Linked DNA regions of Homo sapiens: region 2 is linked to region 1. The links come from fine-mapping of genetic effects on gene expression. A gene starts in region 1. The other region holds a variant in brackets. All regions are shown on one strand. Distances are from middle to middle. Region 1 holds the start of PNMA8B (PNMA family member 8B). Region 2 holds the start of PNMA8A (PNMA family member 8A).

Region 1 (10,000 bases):
GTGAAGCCTCACAGCACCGGCCCGCCTACTCTGGAACCTCCAGGGCAGGGCTGGGGTTTCCTCCCCAGGTCATTTCATCCCCTGTAAGGAGGGACACGCGGCCGGCTTCTGCACTGCCCAGGTGAGCCTCTGTCCCTCACAGTGCCCTTCGGGGCCCCTCTGGCCTTTAATTCACTCAGGGGGTGAACCCAGGGACTTTCAAGTCTTTTAGTAAGGGCTGCAAGGCCAGCGCTGAGCGGTGGGTCAGCTCCACTGGAGAGGGGGCACCCAGGGGAGCCACAGCCTATGGGAGGGGCCAGGGCCCACTCAGCCCAGAAGAACCAAAACTGGATTTTAAGTGAATTACCCCAAATTGAACACCTCTGCAAATAATTAGAATGTTGGGAAACACTGCAGTCTGAGTGACAAATTCAACTTGTGGTCAGGGGCAGGTGGCCTTGGCCTGGGGCTGGTTCCTTTGTTATCAGGGGCGCCCCAGTAGGCAGGGCTGGCATGTGTCTTCCCTCTGCTCCCCCCTCCCCCTCCTCCTCCTCTTTCCCTTCTCCCACCGTTCCTCTCCCCTTTCCTCCTCCTCCCCTTCCCAACCGCCTTCTATCTCTCAGACTTTCCTTTCTGGAATCATCTCTTCCCCTGGCTGGGAGCTGGGGCCTCCCCTGGCTGAGAGTTGCGCCCTGACACGCGCTGCGCGGCTGGTGACTGAGCCTCCACCACAGACCCAGGGCCCAGTCAGACTGGGGTAGGGGCGACAGCGGCCTACAGCACCTGCCAGGCGCAGGCCCCGAGAGCGCCACGAAGAGCCCTGCTCGCCTCTGCAGGTGCCCGGCGTCCACACACACACCCCCTCCGGGGGCAACCCGGGCCCCCAATCCTGGTCCACTTGGCGCGTCCCCATCTCGGCCCTGCGCTGCTGCCTCGGGCGCCCACTTCTCTTTCCTCCTCCCATCCGGGCTTCCTCCGTCGGGATCGCTGGCGCCCCCGGCCTGCGAGGGCCCGAGAGGGGAACGTGACGCTGGCAAAACGCGGCCCGGGCGCGCTGTGAAGCGAGGAGATTGCGTCTGCGGAGGACAGGAAGAGGGGAGGGGAGGGCGGGGGCCACAGGCGGGCGGGTGCCCTGCGGGGCCTGCTCGCAGCCTGGGCGGCTTCTTGGGGGGCCACTAGCGGCATTTAGGGGGCAGCCTCCGGCCCCGACGGGCCTTCTTCCCGCGCGCGGCCTTGGATCCAGTGGGCGCCTGGCCCTTGGCCTCGCCTGCCCTGGCATGGGCCCCGGCGCCCGCGCTCCCCTTCTTCTTCCTGCTTCCTGCGGCGTCGTCCTGGGCCGAGCCCCGGCTCCCGGCTTTCTTCTCGGGAGTGACGCCCCGGCCTCGGCCTCGGCCGCCCGCGCGGGTTTTGCGGGCCCCGGAAGCGGTGGGAGGCGCGCCGGCCGGAGTCAGGCCCCTGGGGGCCGTGCGCGCCCTCTTGGCCCGGGGCTTCCTGGATGCCCTGTCCTCCGGCTCCGACGCCTCGCTCTCGGTGTCCTCCGACTCCTCCTCGGACTGTTCGTCCGAAGCCTCCTCCGACCCCTCGTTGGACCCCATGTTCTCCCGGGCGGCCAGGAGCGCCAATACCTCCCCCAGTTTGCCTTTGGGGTATTTGTACTTCCCGCCTTCCCAGGCGTTTTCTTTTTCCTCCTTCATCACCTCCGCCATGTCCTGGGCAGCCAGGAGCGCCACCAGCTCCAGAAGACCCCCTTCGTCCTCACGGTGCTCGCTCCAGCCCCCGAAGAGGCCACGCCCAGCCTTCTTCGCCTGGGGAGGGAGATCCGGCTGCGCCAAGGTGGAAATGCACTCCCGGAGGTCCCCGTCATCCCCGGCCTTGCGCAGGACCACGGCGTCCACCTCGCGGCCCGCCTCTTCCACCTTCACGCGGGTCCCGTTAGTGTCCTTGGACATGACGGACAAGACCTGTCGGAGGGGGTCTCGCTTGTCTTTCTCGTCGCTCCAGCCCAGCGACTCGATAACAGAAGCGATTTTCAACATCTCCTCCCGGGCCCAGGGGTCCGACGGGTCGGTATAGGCCACAATGGCCACGAACTCAGGATTATCCAACTCCTCTGTTTCTTGGTCCCCACTTTCCTGCGAGTCGCTCTCCGAAGTGTCGCTGTCCACCGGCTCCTCGTCCGGGGTGTCTCTCACAGCCAGCAGGGCCACTAAGTCGGGGACACCATTTTTGTCTTCTTTGGTGTTCAAGCGGATGGATTCGGCCCCAGCTGGCTCCTTCTCTGCCTCTTCTTTCTTCGATTTGTCGGTGACGGTGACCAGAGCCAAGAACTCGCGGGGACCGTCTTCTTCCCCCTCGGAGTTGCAGGGCGCCCACTGCCTAACCAGCTCCCTGGCAGCGGCCTGCAGCGTGGCGTACAGCGCGCTCTGGTCCTCTTCTCCGCTCAGGTCGCCCTGGTCGATCTCCTCGATCACGATGCCCAGGCTCTCGTCGGAAGAGTCCTCGGCCTCACTCCTCGCGGGAGCAGACGGCCGTCCTCCTCGGCTTCTCTTCTTGCCCTTCTGGGTCAACCTGTTGCGTCTGGTTCTGTTTCTGCGACCCCGACGGCCCCTCCTTGGGTTCCTGGCTGCCCCAAGAAGCGAGCCAGCCTGCCCTGTTACCTCCCCAGAATCCTGGGCCTGCGTCTCCGAAGCGGGAGGGGTGGGTGCCTCCCCGGGGGTCCCAGCCTCCGCGGCCTGCGTGGGCCCGTCATCCAGCAGCAGGCGTCTCATCTGCCTCAGGACCCTCGTGTCCTGCGCACGGTCCTTCCACAGAACCCTCCAGACCCCATCCTTGCCTGGGATCTCCCTGGGAATGGCAGCGTGATTGACGTCCTCCACAAACTCCACCAGGGCGGCCTGGGCCTTCTCGTTCATCAAAGCCTTCATGTGTCGCAACCTGAACGTGCCCAGGGGCAGGAGGGTCGGCTGCAGGACGGCTTCGACGTCTGCCTGCTCCAGGCCCTCCGGGATGCCGGTGACCAGCAGGGCCCTGTGCGCGTCCACGTCCAGGCTCCGGCACCAGTCCTGCAAAAGGCTCATGGCCATGGTGCAGCCCCCTTGGCGCTGATCTTGGGGCAGCAGGGAGCCCGAGATAGGGGTGGGCTGCAGCGCACGGTGTCAATGCAACCCTAGAAAGCCACTTGCAGGGCTTAGAGTCCCGGTTCCGGTGAATGTGGCAAGGCTGGAGTGGGGCTCGGGGCTCGGGGGCTCTAGCTGCCTGCTGGCCGGCTGGACGCAGTGACCTTCCCCCGGGACCCCTCTCCAGAGCTGTCTGAGGATCCGCGGGGGGCTTACGTGTCTGCTTTCCAGGACAGCTCCCTCCCTCTCTCCCTGACACAGGCCTGAGTGACTCGGCACCGCAGCCAGGTGCAGGGGGGCGGCGCCGAGTGCACCTGGAGAGGCGTGGGAGGTAGCAGCCGCAGCTTGCCTGGCGCTCGCGCCGCGTCTGAGCGCGCACCCTGGGCCTGAATCTCAGCAGTTCCGCTGCGACGCGGCTGCTCGCGCGTGCGCCTGCGCAGAGGGAGCCGCACACCCTCCCCTGTCCCCCGCCCAACCGTCTCCATGGCAACGGTGCAGCCTTGAGCTGGGGTCTGCGTCGCTGTGGCCTGAGACGCTTTTCTTAAAGGTCCCGATGACAAGGACTTGGGGCCTGGAAGCACCACTTTCATTAACCAGCAAAAAACAAGGCCGAAACCACAGAGGGCCAGAAATCACTCAAGGATACCCGACCTCATTCAGGGGATAGAGGCCTCCTTCCAGAGGGTACCGGCATCACTGGGGGTTACAATTCCCCCTTCCAGGGGCCAGGTGGAATTCAGGATTATATAGGCCTAAATCAAAGGGCACTGGCCTTGCAGCGTAGGACCAGGACTTACTCGGGATACTGGCCTCATTCACAGTATATGGGTCTCAGTATCAAATAGGGGGGCCCAGGCACCACCTGTGAGCAAGACACCATTCAGGGTATATGGGCCTCACTTGCAGGGTACAGGCCCCACTCGATGGGACCGGCCCTCACTCCCATACACGTTCCTGTATTCTGAACTATGCATGCACAATAAATCCTGTGGTTTTGCACACGCTTTGAGCATATGTATGATTGTGAGACCAGGCATGAATTTTGCAAGAAAGCATTTCCCTTGACTGGGACAGCAGACTGGGGCGTGTGAACGTCAGTCATAGCTACTGTAAACATGCATTTGCTTCTCTGTCCCTTGTTGGCCATGAGGCTGTCCCCTACTCTATATGAATCTGGCTCTGTAGACCAGCTGGTAGGTTTATATCTCAACCATCATCCCTACCTCAAAGGGTTTTGTTTTTTTGTTGTTGTTTGTTTTGGAGATGGAGTCTTGCTCTGTCACTCAGGCTGGAGTGCAATGGCACAATCTTGGTTCACTGCAACTTCCGCCTCCCATGTTCAAGCGGTTCTCCTGCCTCAGCCTCCTGAGTAGCAAGGATGACAGGCCTCCCAAGTAGCTGGGATTATAGGCATACACCATCACGTCTGGCAAGTTTTTGTATTTTTTGTAGAGATGGGTTTTTACCATGTTACCCAGGCTGGTCTCAAACTCCTAACCTCAAGTGATCTGCCCGCCTCAGCCTCTGAAAGTGCTGGGATTACAGGATTACATGGTGAGCCACCATGCCTGGCCTCAAAGGGTTCTCATGAGGATTAAAGGGAATAATCCAGGAAAGCATTTAGAAGAGCAGCTGGCCCACAGCTGGTGCTCCATGAAAGATGGCTAAGAGAAGTATTTGTTGAGAACTTACCATTATAAAAGCATCTGTTTTGTTGGTTTGTTTTTGAGATGGAGTCTTGCTCTGTCGCCCAGGCTGGAGTGCAATGGAGCAATCTCGGCTCACTGCAACCTCCACCACCCGGGTTAAAGCCATTCTCCTGCCTCAGCCTCCCGAGTAACTGGGACTACAGGCATGCACCACCATGCCTGACTAGTTTTTTGTTTGTTTGTTTGTTTGAGAGAGAGTCTCGCACTGTCACTCAGGCTGGAGGGCAGTGGCGTGATCTTGGTTCACTGCAACCTCCGCCTCCCGGCTTCAAACCATTCTCCAGCCTCAGCCTCCCAAGTAGCTGAGATTACAGGTGCCCGCCACCACGCCCAGCTAATTTTTTGTATTTTTAGTAGAGACGGGGTTTCACTATGTTGGGCAACCTTGTCTCAAACTCCCAACCTCGTGATCCGCCCGCCTCGGCCTCCCAAAGTGCTGGGATTACAGGTGTGAGCCACCGTGCCCGGCCTAGTTTTGTATTTTTAGTAGATGGATTTTCACCATGTTGGCCAGGCTGGTCTGGAACTCCTGACCTCGGGTGATCTGCCGGCGTCGGCCTCCCAAAGTGCTGGGATTACAGGCACGAGCCACCGTGCTCAGCCCAAAGCATCTGTTAATAAACAAATAAATAGGAAACCAAAACACCTCGAGTTTTTTGTTTTTGCCACCAGGCCCAACCCCTTACTTTTGTGTTTGGATTTTTTTATGTTTAAGGAGAGTTTAACTGCAAGGTTACCACAGCAACTGGGCAAACCGCTTACTCACTCCTATTTTCCCCCACTTTTTCCTCCTCTGATCTTCCTGATCCACAGATGGATGTGATGTGACTCTTTTCTCCAGAGCAGCGTTGTCCAGCAGGAATAGAATGCCAGCCCCAAATTCGAACCGCACGTGCAATGTTAAAACTCCTAGTTGCAGCCAGCCAACACTGACCTCAGGTGGTCCACCCACCTCAGCCTCCCAAAGTGCTGGGATTACAAAGTGTCATTTTTGACATTTGAATCTCCAATCTAGGCTGGGCATGGTAGCGCACGCCTGTAATCCCAGCTACTTGGAGGCTGAGGCAGGAGAATCACATGAACCTGGGAGGCAGAGGTTGTTGCATTGAGCCGAGATTGCGCCACTGCACTCCAGCCTGGGAGACAGAGCAAGACGCTGTCTCAAAAAAACCAAACCAAACCAAACCAAACCAAACCAAAACAAAACAAAAAACGAGCTGCTTTTTCTGCATCTATTGATCTAAAAAAAGAAGAAATATGGTGACTCACCATGTAATCCTGTAATCCCAGCACTTTCAGAGGCTGAGGCGGGCAGATCACTTGAGGTTAGGAGTTCGAGACCAGCCCGGGCAACATGGTGAAAACCTATCTCTACAAAAAATACAAAATTTCCTAGGGGGCCACCTTCAATAAATAGAAAAGAGGGAAGAAAAATGAATTTTAAGAATAGATTTTGGCCAGGCGCAGTGGCTCACGCCTGTAATCCCAGCACTTTGGGAGGCCGAGGCAGGCAGATCACTTGAGCCCAGGAGTTTGAGACCGGCCTGGCCAACATGGCAAAACCTCGTCTCTACAAAAAATACAAAAGTTAGCCAGGCTTAGTGACACACATCTGTAGTCCCTGATACTCAGGAAGCTGAGGTAGGAGGATTGCTTCAGCCCAGGAGATCAAGGCTGAAGTGAGAGATGATCATGCTACACTGCACTCCAGCTTGGGCAAGAGAATGACCCTGTCTCAAAAAAAAAAAAAAAAAAAAAAAAAAAAAAAAAAAAAAAAAGGAAAAGGAAAAAGAAAAAGAAAATAAAGAATATATATTATTTATCCCGAAATATACAAAGTGTTGTCATTTGCACAAGTTGTCAATGTAAAACAATTATTTATGAGCTATCAGACACTCTCTTTTCATAATGAGTCCCTTTGGAGTAGCCGTATTTCAAGGGCTCAGCAGCCACACAGGGCCATTGGGAATTTGTTTGCAAGAATTAATTAGGGGGAGAGAGAGAGAGAGAGAGAGTGTGTGTGTGTGTGAATACACTCAGCACAACTGTTATTTATAACTGCAAGATTGGAAAACACAACAAAAAGAGAAACAGGAAGCTTGCACTTTGTGTGTGTGTGTGTGTGTGTGTGTGTGTGTATTTTAGAGTCAGAGTCTTGCTGTCTCCCAGGCTAGAGTGCAGTGGCATGACCATGGCTCACTGCAGTCTTGAACTCCTGGCTTCAAGCACCTCTCCCACCTCAGCCTCCAGAGTAGCTGGAACTGCAGCACACCACCACGCCTGGCTAATTTTATTTTTTGTAGAGATGGGGTCTTGTTATGTTGCCCAGGCTGGTCTCAAACTCCTGGGCTCAAGTGATCCTCCTTCCTTGGCCTCCCAAAATGCAGGGATTGCAGGCGTGAGCCATCATGCCCGATGAAGCTGACACTTTTCTAAGTCGTTGTGGATAACCACAGGTGAAATTCTTGTAAAAATGAAGATTCATATACCATATAACCCACCCATTTAAAGTGCACAACTCAATGGCTGTTAGTTCATTCAGAGTTGTGTGACCAACACCACGATTGATTTTAAAACATTTTCATCACCTCAAAAAGAAATCCCACACTGCTTAGCCATCACCCTCCAACCCTCTAATCTCCCCCCAGCCCCCGGCAACCACTAATCTGCTTTCTGTCTCTACGGACTTCCCCATTCTGGACATTTCATATGAATGGAGTCATACAATATGTTGTTCCTTTGTGTCTGGCTTCTTTCACTCAGCATCATTTGTTCAGTGTTGTGTGGCAAGTGTCATCCAATACTCTGTTCCATTTATTTAGAGACAGAGTCTCGCTCTGTCACCCAGGCTGGGGTGCAGTGGCACAATCTCAGCTCACTGCAACCTCTGCCTCCCGAGTTCAAGGAGTTCTCCGAGTTCACCTGCCTCAGCCTCCCGAGTAGCTGGGATTACAGGCACCCACCGCCACACCCAGTTATTTTTGTATTTTTAGTACAGACAGGGTTTCACCATGTTGGCCAGGCTGGTCTCAAACTCCTGACCTCAGGAGTTTGCCTGCCCATCTGCCCATCTCGGTCTCCTAAAGTGCTGGGATTTCAGGTGTGAGCCACTGCACCCAGCCTCCATTCTTTTTATGGCTGAGCAATGTTCCATGGAATGGATAAATCAAATTTTCTTTATCCATTCATCAGTTGATGGACATTTGGGTTGTTTGCACTTTTGGGCTATCATGAATATGCTAGGAACATAGGAGCATGATGGATATGCTGTGTGCAAATTTCTATGTAGACATATGTTTTCATTTCTCTTGGGCAGACACTTTTAGGAGAGGAATCCCGGGGCACATGGTAACTCTATGTTGAGTCATTTGAGGGGCTGAAGGGATGCTTTTAGCAATGGTCAACGCAGAGCAAGAGTCTTTCCTACTTCCCACAAAGCCGCTGTAAGTGCTAAAATGGAGTTAGGTTCTGGACCCAGATCATTGTAGACTGATTTTTCAACAGTGTCACAGGCTGGATGGCTTAGATAACAGAAATCTATTTTCTCCCAGTTCCAGAGTCTGGAAGTCCAAGATCAAAGTGCCATCCGGGTTAGTCTTTTACATTTGCCCAATAACCAAGCAAGTCACTTTGTCTCTTCATGGCTCTGTGGCCCCAGTTTATCGTGAGGTTGTGAGGATTTAAGCGGGATGTGTGTGTGTGTGTGTGTGTGTGTGTGTGTGTGTGTGTGTGTGTTGGAACAGTGCCTGGCCCTGAGTGTTACTGGGACAAAGATTTCATTCTCACCGTGGGACAGGATGAGGTGGCACGCTGGAATGCAGAGGGGACTCCCCAGGAGAGCGTCTGGTTTATAAGAGGACCCAAAGGTACAGAGGCTGAATTATGTCTCTTTAAAATTCATATGTTGGAGCCTGGGTGTGGTGGCTCACGCGTGTAATCCCATCATTCTGGGAGGCTGAGGCAGGTGGATTGCTTGTGGTCAGGAGTTCGAGACCAGCCTGGCCAACATGGCGAAACCCCATCTCTACTAAAAATACAAAAATTAGCCAGGTGTGATGGTGAGTGGCTGGAATCCCAGCTATTCAGGAGGCTGAGGCAGGAGAACCGCTTGAACCTGGAAGGCGGAGGTTGCAGTGAGCTGAGATTGTACCACTGAACTCCAGCCTGGGTGACAGGCATGACTGTCTCTAAATAAATAAATAAAATAAAATAAAATAAAATAAAATAAAATAAAATAAAATAAAATTCATATGTTGGGCTGTGTGTGGTGGCTCACACCTGTAATCCCAGCACTTTGGGAGGTTAAGGCAGGCAGATCACTTGAGGCCAGGAGTTCAAGACCAGCCTGCCCAACATGGTGAAACCCCATCTCTACCAAAAATACCAAAATTAGCTGGTCATGGCCAGGCATGGTGGCTCATGCCTGTAATCCCAGCACTTTGGGAGGCTGAAGTGGGTGGATCATGAGGTCAGGAGATCAAGACCATCCTGGCTAACACAGTGAAACCCCGTCTCTACTAAAAATACGCAAAATTAGCCAGGTGTGGTGGTGGGCACCTGTAGTCCCAGCCACTTGGGAGGCTGAGGCAGGAGAATGGTGTGAACCCGGGAGGCAGAGCTTGCAGTGAGCCGAGATTGCGCCACTGCACTCCAGCCTGGGCAACAGAGTGAGACTCCCGTCTGAAAAAAAAAAAAAGAAAAGAAAAATTAGCTGGTCATGTTGGCAGGTGCCTGTAATCCCAGCTACTCAGGAGGCTGAGGTGGGAGGATTGCTTGGGCCTGCCAGGTCGAGGCTGCAGTGAGCCATGACTGAGCCACTGCACTCCAGCCTGGATGACAGAGTAAGACCCTGTCTCAAAAAAAAAGAAAAAAAAAAAAAAGGATAGACTATGAACCCCAAGCCCTGTGCACAGAAGATCTTACAGGGACCAGCCAGGCAGGGACATCAGGATCCCCAACATGTCCTGCCCAGTCCCGCCCTGGGCATTTCCCCTGGAATCATGATCTCTTCTTAGGCAGAGATGAGCCTATGACTGACCAAGCCACTGCCTGTAAGGTTCCAATGGAAACAGCTGGAAGAAAGGGCGTAAAGCGTTCAAGGCCGGGCGTGGTGGCTCACGCCTGTAATCCCAGCACTTTGGGAGACCGAGGCGGGTGGATCACATGAGGCCAGGAGTTCAAGACCAGCCTGGACAA
Region 2 (10,000 bases), 29 kb before region 1:
TGCTGAGGAAAAGAAGCCAGACACCAAAAAAACCATATGCTGTATGACTCCACTTACAGCACTCCTGGGACAGACACACTGAGCTTTGGCTGGAAAAATCATTACAGTGCTCACCTCTGAGAGCTGCGGCGGGGACCGACTGGGAAGGGGCACAGGGAGGCTTTCTAGGATGATGATATTGTTCTGTAACTTGTCGCAGGGGTGGGTTACACAGGTGCCTGCCTATGTCCAAACTTATCCTTATCAGACCGTTCACTTAAGATCTGTCCATTTCACTGTATATAAATGTTTTATTTTAACTAAAAAATGAAAATGTAAAAAAAAGGAATAAATGAATAAGTAAATCAACACAACCCACTTCTTTCTCCTTGGCAGCTCTGCTAACCAGATCCCCAAATGGGCAGCTTTTTCTTGGGCCTCCTGGGTCCAGCTACTGTCACCTCCCCACTAGGCTCCCAGCTGCCACCTCACCCTCTGCAGTCTGTTCCCCACCAGGCTTCCAGGGGGAGCCTGGAAACAACCTATGTAGGATCCTGACGCTGTGTTCAGCACCCTCCCATGGCTCCCATCTCTCAGATTAAAGCTGGAATCCATCCTGGCCGCACCTGTGGGGCTTTGCACACCAGCCTCCAAAGCCCCCTGCCCTCTTGCTCCTCACCTCCTCCTTGCTTTTTTATTTTTATTTTTTTGAGACAGAGTCTTGCTCTGTCGCCCAGGCTGGAGTGCAGTGGTGCGATCTCAGCTCACTGCAGTCTCAACCTCCTGGGTTCAAGCAATTCTCCTGCCTCAGCCTCCCAAGTAGCTGGGACCACAGGCACGCGCCATCACACCTGGCTAATTTTTTTGTATTTTTAGTAGAGATGGGGTTTCACCATGTTGGCCAGGCTGGTCTTGAACTCCTGACCTCAGGTGATCTGCCCGCCTTGGCCTCCCAAAGTGCTGGGATTACAGGTGTGAGCCACTGCGCCCAGCCTTACTCACTTTCTGAAACAGATTAGAGCCTCCCTCCACGATGACTGTTCCCTCTGCCCAGGAGGCCGTTCTTGGCCAACTGCTTGTCTCACCCCTCACCCCCTTCAGGTCTGTTCAGACATCCAGTTCCCAGAGAGGCTCCCCCAACCATTGTAAGCGACAGCCAGCCGTTTCTGCACACTCACCTTGCCTGCCTATCTTCCTGTTATATTTTTCACGGCAGAGCTCCCCACCCCTCCACCTGTGTCTATATAAGGTCTGTCCTCACTCAAACGTCAGGCTCCAGGAAGCCAGGACTCTGTCTTGCTCCTGGCTGTCGTACAGCAGATTCTCAACGAACCTTGCTTGAATGGCAGCATGGGCAACCAGGACACTTTGCCCTCGAGCCCTGCTGGTGGCATCCACAGCTCTCCATCTTCCTGCAAACACTCCGGGCCAGCGCCTCCCCAGACGCACCCCTGAACAGAACACCTCCACCCGGGGCGATGAGGTTTCTTTGAAGAGAGCTTTCATGTGCCCCAACCTTGGATTCCCCCCATTTTTAGGGCACGTAGGCCTTTCATACTTTACTGACAGCCTGGGTGTAACCAGTAGGAGTGACTATTATTGTGGGAGGTACTTAAACATCTTGGTCAAATAGGGCTTTTCCCATTGTGGGGGTGTGGGGGCACCCAATAAATAGAGCTTCATCCAGATGCTTCTATGAGTACACGGCAGTTCCTAACGAGCTCCGCGTCCTCAAATCCCAGCTTCCCTTTTGGTCTCTTTCGCATCTTTCCTCATAATCTCCATTCACTTTCACAAAACCTCAACCTGGACCCCTAAGGACACTTCCGTTTCCCCAAGTCTGAATTATTCCACCTGAAGCTCTCCAACCTGTATTATTAATAGAATTCTTGGCTGGGCGTGGTGGCTCACGCCTGTCATCCCAGCACTTTGGGAGGCTGAGGTGGGCGGATCACGAGGTCAAGAGATCAGAGATCGAGGCCATCCTGGCCAACATGGTGAAACTCCATCTCTACTAAAAAAAATACAAAAATATTAGCTGGGCGTGGTGGCGCACCCCTGTAGTCCCAGCTACTTGGGAGGCTGAGGCAGGAGAATCGCTTGAACCCGGGAGGCAGAGGTTGCAGTGAGCTGAGATCATGATACTGCACTCCAGCCTAGGAGACAGAGCGAGACTCCGTCTCAAAAAAAAAAAAAAAAAATTCTCAGGAGAAACTGTTTAAGACGCAGATAACTATGTACAACCCCGAAGAGATCCTGAATCAGCAGGTAGAGCCACGAAATGGTACCTTGAACAGATTCCAAGTGACTGATGTAGTGGCCACCCTGGTTCAGGAGTTCCTGGGGAGGGGCAGGGGAGGGCCAGAAGAAAACTATATTTTTAGCTAAAAGACCTCAGCTTCTGGCTTGGCATGGTGGCTTACACCTGTAATCCCAACGCTTTGGGAGGCCGAGGTGGGCAGATCACTTGAGCCCAGGAGGTAGAGGCTGCAGTGGGCTGAGACTGTGCCACTGCACTCCCACCTGGGTGACAGAGCGAAACTCCATCTCAAAAAAAAAAAAAAAAAAAGACCTTGGCTTCTGTGTGAGGGAATAGGAAGGGAGGGAAAGGTTTTCATTTTCCAGCTGTTTATAAAAAAATAAACTGGTACTTTGAGGTAATTTGCGTCACCAGATACCTATTCTAGAAACCCCAAGATCTGTGGGACATCCTTCCACATCAGTGGAAAGCCATTCGCAAAGAGGACAAACGGCTTCTTCTCTCATGGATCATTAACAATTCTCAAAGCTTGAACCCGTATCTGATAACCAGTCACATCTGGCTGGGGGCACTGTTTGAGGAAAGGGGAACCCTTTCCTCAAATTTAATAGTCCATGCAATCCTCACCTACAAGAGACTTAACAGGACACTTAATTTGCTAAACTTTATTTTATACATACACGTTTACATTTACTAGTCATGGTGTCAACTTGTTAACACAACGAAGCCCTAATGGACCCGTTTTGAAATTAGAAGCTGGACAGTTACAGGCTTTGGTCTCTTCAAGAATCCAATTCACCCCTGGGTTTCGCTTGGCACACACCCCAGGAGAACGTCGATGCACACAGCTGTGTAGCTGCAAACGGAAACCACTCTCTTTTCTCTCGTATTTTTCAGTCAGACTCACTCAGGATTTTGAAATGAATCATCACGAGAAATTTGTTTTAAAGTTGAATCACTGAGAACATCTAACAACTGTTCACATTCTTTATCACAAAAACTGAAGTCGGAAAAGACGCCCTGAAAACTTGCAAGGGCTAATACTCTATGATAGAATATTACTACTGTTCACCATGTTAATACATTTACTTACTACCATACACCTGAACAGTCACGGCAGAACAAGAGCATGTGAATGACGAAAGGAAACTTGCTTTCAGGGTGTCAGATTATAGAACATGCACAGGAATTTCTTCCACTTCTAACCTCGCTCATCAGTCACATTTACAAGAAACTCAATTTTAAGCAAAGAGATGCCTGAAATAACTAAGACGTGTACAAAAACAAGTTAACCTATGAACACAAGGTAATATTCTGATAGTCTTCGATGTGACTTCCAACATATCTGAGTAGTCACTTTTCAGTTTTTTAAACACGTGAGAAAAATAGATTTGGATTACATCTTTGTGGACGGCTACGATACAGTTTGGAAACCATTATCTCAGGGACCCTGCTCTCTCCTCTACACATGCGCACGCAAACACACACACACACACACACAATGACACATGGTGGTCTGGTCTAATATAGTGTGTCTGAATTCAGAGGGCAGACATTAACAGCCAAGTTTTGTTTTTTTGAGAGAGAGTCTCACTCTGCTGCCCAGGCTGGAGTGCCGTGGCACAATCTCGGCTCATTGCAACCTCTGCCTCCTGGATTCAAGCAATTCATCTGCCTCAGCCTCCTGAGTAGCTGGGATTACAGGCGCGCGCCACCACGCCCAGCTAATTTTTGTAGAGATGGGGTTTCACCATGTTGGTCAAGCTGGTCTTAAACGCCTGACCTCGTGATCGACCTGCCTCAGCCTCCCAAAGTGCTGGGATTACAGGCGTGAGCCACCGTGCCCGGCCAACAGCCAAGTTTTAAAAGATTTTTTTCCCCTCTTACTATAATGTGAGTAGTGACCTTCTGCTGCAAAGATGGTGACAGTTTGGTGCAAAGATGGTGACAGTTGGGTAGATGGATGGAATTAGAGCTGGGGACCTAGGAATGCCTGCGTCCTTCCCTATAATCACCCCCCTTCCCCACAGGATTCCTGAGAGGGCTCATCCCAAATGGGAATCAAAGTGCCATTTTTACTAACAGACTCTAAAACTCAAAGACTTTGAGGTCTAGGCAGACATTCTTTTTCCCTAAAACTAACTCTTGGGACCTCCTGGCTAGATAACTGGAGGATGGAAGCTGGAGACTGAAGGAGCAATAAAACCAGGTTTGCAGCGAAGGTCCTGGCTTAACTTACCCCGC[T/A]GGTTACACGAGAGGAAGGCGGGAGGAAGAATATGGCAGGGCCACCCAGCTCTTCCAAATGCCAGGGCCTGCAGAGGTCGCTGACCATTCCGAGGAGGGAGCAAGGCGTGGGGGAGAAAAGCTGAACATGGATGAGTGTAACAGTGACCCTGCTCATGCATAAAGGGGAATGAATGTTCTAGAATTTTCCCAATCCTCTTACCAACTCTCCTGCCTCCGAAGAGAAGGTGAGTAGAGAAGGCGGTGAAACGGCAGGCCTGGTAGAGAAAAGGGCATAGAGATCCACCTCCCTTCCCCAACTCCCTCCCACCCAAGACCTCACCTATCGTTTACCTCAGGGCCAGATCTCTATCAACAGGGGCCCTAAGAGAGTCCAAAGTCTTATTCAGTGACAAGAGAGAACTTGGTTGACTTGGTACTTCTTCCTTGTTCTTTCAACTCCTCAGTATGGGTGGTCCCCCAGATCAAACCTTTCTGGATTCTGCAAATAAATGAGAGAACAGATCAAGAAGGGAAGCAGAGAGGTGTCATTAGGAAATGCATTACTTCCAAGAAATTTCTGGGTCCCTGAACATTTCTATTCCCCAGCCAGGTCTCTAGAAAACTTCACCCTTAAAGCCACATACCCTGCAAACACCATAACTCCAAAGTATTAATATTTTTTTTGGGGGGAGGGGGGAACAGGGTTTCACTCTATCGCCCAGGCTGGAGTGCAGCAGTGTGATCTTGGCTCCCTGCAACCTCCACCTCCCAGGTTCAGGGAGGGTAAGAGCCCAGACCGCCCTTCCAGGAGCCCCTGAAGGCCGATGCTGGAGACATCTGGTGGGCAGATGTCTGGAGGCCAATCCCAGGCCTTGGCCTCCCCAGTAGCTGGGATTACAGGCACAAACCACCATGCCCAGCTAATTTTTGTATTTTTAGTAGAGATGGGGTTTCACCATGTTGGCCAGGCTGGTCTCGAACTCCTGACCTCAGGTGATCTGTCTGCCTTGGCCTCCCAAATCATTAAATTCTTTTTTTTTTTTTTGGAGACAAGAGTCTCACTCTCGTCACCCAGGCTGGAGGGCAGTGGCACAATCTAGGCTCACTGCAACCTCCACCTCCCGGGTTCAAGAGATTCTCCTGCCTCAGCCTCCCGAGTAGCTGGGATTACAGGTATGTGGCACCACACCCGGCTAATTTTTTGTATTTTTAGTAGAGACGGGGTTTCACCATGTTGGCCAGGCTGGTCTTGAACTCCTGACCTCAGGCGATCTGCCCACCTTGGCTTCCCAAAGTGCTGGGATTACAGGCATGAGCCACCAAGCCTGGGCCCAAACCATTAAATTCTCATCAAGGAAGATGGGTCAGATGGAGTGGCAAATGACCACAGTGACACTCATTGTGGGTTTCCTCTGCCACCTCCTGCCCACCAGATGTCTCCAGCATCGGCCTTCAGGGGCTCCTGGAAGGGCGGTCTGGGCTCTTACCCTCCTCAACTGGTGTGTCATCCACCTCCTGCCATGCACCAGGGTCCTCCTCATCACCCGCTTGACCCACCACCTCCTCGGGCTCCTCTGCCCCACCTGCCACTCCTGCTCCTCCTGCCTCATCCACTTGCTGGCACGAGCCCAGTCACTTCTGCTATCATTCTCACCATTGGTGGCACGCCGAGGAGAGCCTTCTGGCTTGGCCTTCGGACCCCTAGAGGTTGAGGCTGTTGCCTCGGCAGGCTGCTGGCCCCGAGGGGCCTTCTGATCTGATGCCTCCCTTCTTGAGCCTGGCCCTTTCTTTGGCATCACCGGCTTCTTCCTGCCATCTTCTGAGTCAACCAAGACGTAGGAGACAGGGCCCAAGCTCACCTTCTTCTTCTTCCTCATGGGAGCGGGGTTCTTGGCAGACACCCAGGCCACGGCCTTCTTCTTTGGTGGGCTTTCATGGCCACCATCTTGGTCTGACTCAGAGGCGCCTCCTGGGCTCTCGGCTTCTGCCCGGGCATCCTGAGGTGGCTCTCTGGGACCCTTCCAGGCACATTTCGCCATGGGCTTCTTCAAAGCCAACTCCTCCTTATTCACACAGGGCTTTCTGCTGCCCTTGATCGGCTCTGAGATCGCCATGCTTTCAGCATCACCCACCTCAGGATCCTCCAAGTTAGCTGTGCTGTTGGAATTGATGCCTTTGGGTTTTTTCCAGGGCACTGCTTCCTGCCTGGAGTTCTTCTTCTGCTTCTTTCTCCTGGAGCGAGACTTAGCTCCAGCCCTGCGAACCAAAGGTTTGGTAGGCTCATGCTGGTCTTCCGTGGCATTCCAGTTGTTGGGGGTCTCTGCCTTTAAGGCAGAACCCACCTCTGCTGCAAGCCCCGGTTCTTTCTTCACCTTCCTCCCTGCTGCTAAAGCCCAGGCTGCCATCTCCTCGAATTCAGCGGCCTCCTGGGCCCTGGCTTCCTCCCGGCTGCGGATCTCGGCATCCATGCAGAAGATGATCTGCACCACTGCTCCCAGAAGCACCCCCAGAGCTTCTGCCCAGTTCTCTGGGGGCTGATGCTGGTTCTGGGACAGGGTGGGGTGGTTGAGCTGGAGCAGGCGGACCACATCCTCCCAGGTGCGCCCCTCGGCATCCAGGAATTCATTCAGATTTTTTAAAAACTCGGCATCCTGGGTAGGGTCTCTACAGACCACTCTCCAGACACCACCCCTTCCTGGGAATTCACGGGGGATGGTGCTCAGATTCACACCTTCACCAACCTCAATGAGGGCAGCTTTAACATTCTCTTCCCTCACAAAAATCTTGTTGAGCACGCGGTACGGGCCCAGTGGGGAGAGGACCCCATTCAAGGTCTCCTCAATTTCTGCCTGCCCACAGTCCTCTGGGATGCCTGTGACCAACAAGGACCTGTGGATGTCCACTTCCATTCCCCTGCACCAATCCTCCAGAAGGTTCATCGCCATGGTCTTGGACATTTAGCGGCTCTGAACCTACTATGTGTAGTAAATAGTCTATCAGGTGGACGTGGGCTGCAGCGGTCTCCAAACAGTAATCCTGCAAGGTGACAAGGGAGCGAGGTCACGTTCCCAGGAAGATGACCAAGCTCACAGATCCTAGCTGCCCCCTCCGCGGCTGGCCTGCAGGAGGCCTGGCGCTTTCCCAACACCCTCCTCCCCAACCCAGGCCCCGGTGCTCACACGTGTCCCTGAATCTGCAGCAAAAGGCCCTAGGACCCTCCCCCGGGCCTGACGCTCCGCCTGCCCAGCCGGGACTTACTTGGCAGATCAGCCTCCGACCGCCCAGCCAGGCCAAGGAGACGCAGTGGAATGCAGCCGTTTCCCAGTCGCTGGCTCCGGCTACCCCGGCGCCGCTGCTAGAGGCAGAAAGGGCCAAGAAGGCGCCGTCCGCCCCCGCTCCGGCCCAGGCGGGTCACGGGGCGTCCAGACTCGATGCCGTTAGCGGCGAGAAGCCGAGGTTGGCGTCGCAGCGCGCGCCTGCGCACTGGCTCCCGCACCGCCGCTCGGGGGTCTTGGGCTGCGCAGGTGCCGACGTCTCCATGGCAACCGGGCGTGGGTTGCTAGGGCTGAGCCCGGCCGGCGCGCCGGCGCTGCAATTGGACCTAGGGAGCCGGGTGCAAGAGTGGCCTGTTCAGGTCGCAGAGCAAGCGGGTCTGGATACACTCCGGTGGCGCCTCCACGGAGGCCCTCTTTCAACCCAAGTGGGCCTCGCGAACGGGGGTTAGGTCGATGAGAAGCGCCAACACCTATGGCTGCACCCACTGACTGTATTATCCTCTGCCCCACCTGTTGGATTCACCCAACGCAACTCTTGGGAGACACTAGAAATCAAGAAAGGAGGAAAACGAGGCTTTAATCTTCTTGGGTTCCTCCAACAGCAGGTGCAGTTCCTGTTGGGCTTGTAGCCTTCTCTCTTACAAGCTGCTGGGTTCTTCCAGGAATTTCCAGAAACTTCTAGAAATTTCTTAGTCTCCTCCCCGACCCCTTCTAGCATGAGGATAATGCCTCGCCTTTTCTTGTTTCCTCAACGTGATTCAGGGCAGGTTCTTGGCATCCTCCAGGCAGGGGACAATGTTACAGCTCAGTGACTGCCCCTACAGAGAAGTGTTAGTCCAAACTGCAACCATTTTGTAAGCCCTGACTATTTTGCAGATCTTGGTCAAAGTGAAATATTCCACGGGGGTTCGGGCCAATGAGAAACATCCTGCCTAATCACCTGACCACAAGGCGGACAAAGGCCCAGCTAAAGAAACATTATCATACCCTATCGTGCAAAGGCCCAACTGAAGAAACATCCCTATCATATTCTGCTGGGAGAAAGTGCAGAGAACACCACATTCCACCAGAACAAGGGCCAGAACCGCCTCATCATGGAACCATCTTATCAACATCCTGCTGGGCAGCAAACCATACTGCTCAGACCCCTCCCACCCATAACTATAAGTACCCCCAGCCTATAAGCAGCAGTGGGCTCTGGCATTAGGCTGGTTACCCACTTCCACAGGTGTCTGCAGTATACCTGAGTTGCTGTTGAGCCGCCTTCTGTCTGTGTGTCTTTAACCCTCACCTTCCCTCCAAAACCTAACAAGGAGGGCTACCCTCTAGGCAGTGTGCTGAGAATAGCACCTCGGGGCAAGGCTGCAGTCACATTTATACCCACTTTTAATGACGTGCTAATTAAGGGGTGGGTTTTCAGAATTAGCAAATTGGCAGTAACTTATGGGTGTTGCCATGGCAATGGTAAACTGTCATGGTGCTGGCAGGCATGTCTTATGGAGAGAGGCTTTCGGTGCCTTTTCCAGGTTTTGGCCAGTCTTCAATGTGATCCTCAGTGGAGTCCCCTGGGCCTCCTACCTCAACCTTGCTGCCCATGAGCAAGAACTTTGTTAATAGTTTATTAATGCCCAGTGCTGTGGCTCACGCATGTAATCCCAACACTTTGGGAGGCTGAGGAGGGCGGATCACTTGAGCTGGGGAGTTCGAGACCATCCTGGGCAACATGGCAAAACCCCGTCCCTACCAAAAACGCAAAAAATTAGCCAGGTGTGATAGGGGTCACCTGTGGTCTCAGCTATTCGGGAGGCTGAGGTGGGAGGATTGCTTGAACCCAGGAGACCCTGTCTCAAAAAAAATAAACTAATTAATTAAGCACTCCTATGAGACTCGGTTGGACTGGCCATCTGTTTTTTTTTTTTTTTTTTTGCCAGTCCCTCACTGATCCACCTACCAATGTCCCTTCCTGGCTGTGTGATCTTAGAGAAATAATTTGACCCCGCTGAGCTTATTTCTTTTCTCTGTAATAGGAATTCTAATAAAAAATCTTCCTGATTTGGAAGTTTTGAAGATTCGGGGGGATCTCATCTGAAAGATGCATGGAAGTACAATTTGGGCCTTGGTATTCAACCAAAATCTGTTCTTTGGGTTCATTTTTGAAACTGACATTTGCAAGGCCAAATAGCCAAATGTTCATTTCACTGTCATCTCTGGCATTCCTAAATTTGGGCATCATCAATACTTGTGTGATTGCCCAAGTTTC

Evidence for each region. PIP is the estimated chance that this variant, and not a neighbour inherited with it, causes the effect.
Region 2: its variant is fine-mapped to the expression of PNMA8B in whole blood (INTERVAL, PIP above 0.99).

The regions. Positions count from the first base shown.
Region 1 is chr19:46,492,404-46,502,403 of GRCh38, forward strand. It overlaps PNMA8B (PNMA family member 8B), which reads right to left and starts at 3,464. Exons shown (of 1, transcript NM_020709.3): 1 at 1-3,464. The coding sequence starts at 3,062. The coding sequence ends at 1,155.
Region 2 is chr19:46,463,614-46,473,613 of GRCh38, forward strand. It overlaps PNMA8A (PNMA family member 8A), which reads right to left and starts at 7,950. Exons shown (of 3, transcript NM_018215.4): 1 at 7,724-7,950; 2 at 6,120-7,501; 3 at 2,890-4,964. The coding sequence starts at 7,422. The coding sequence ends at 4,948. The variant T/A (reference allele first, on the strand shown) is at 4,484.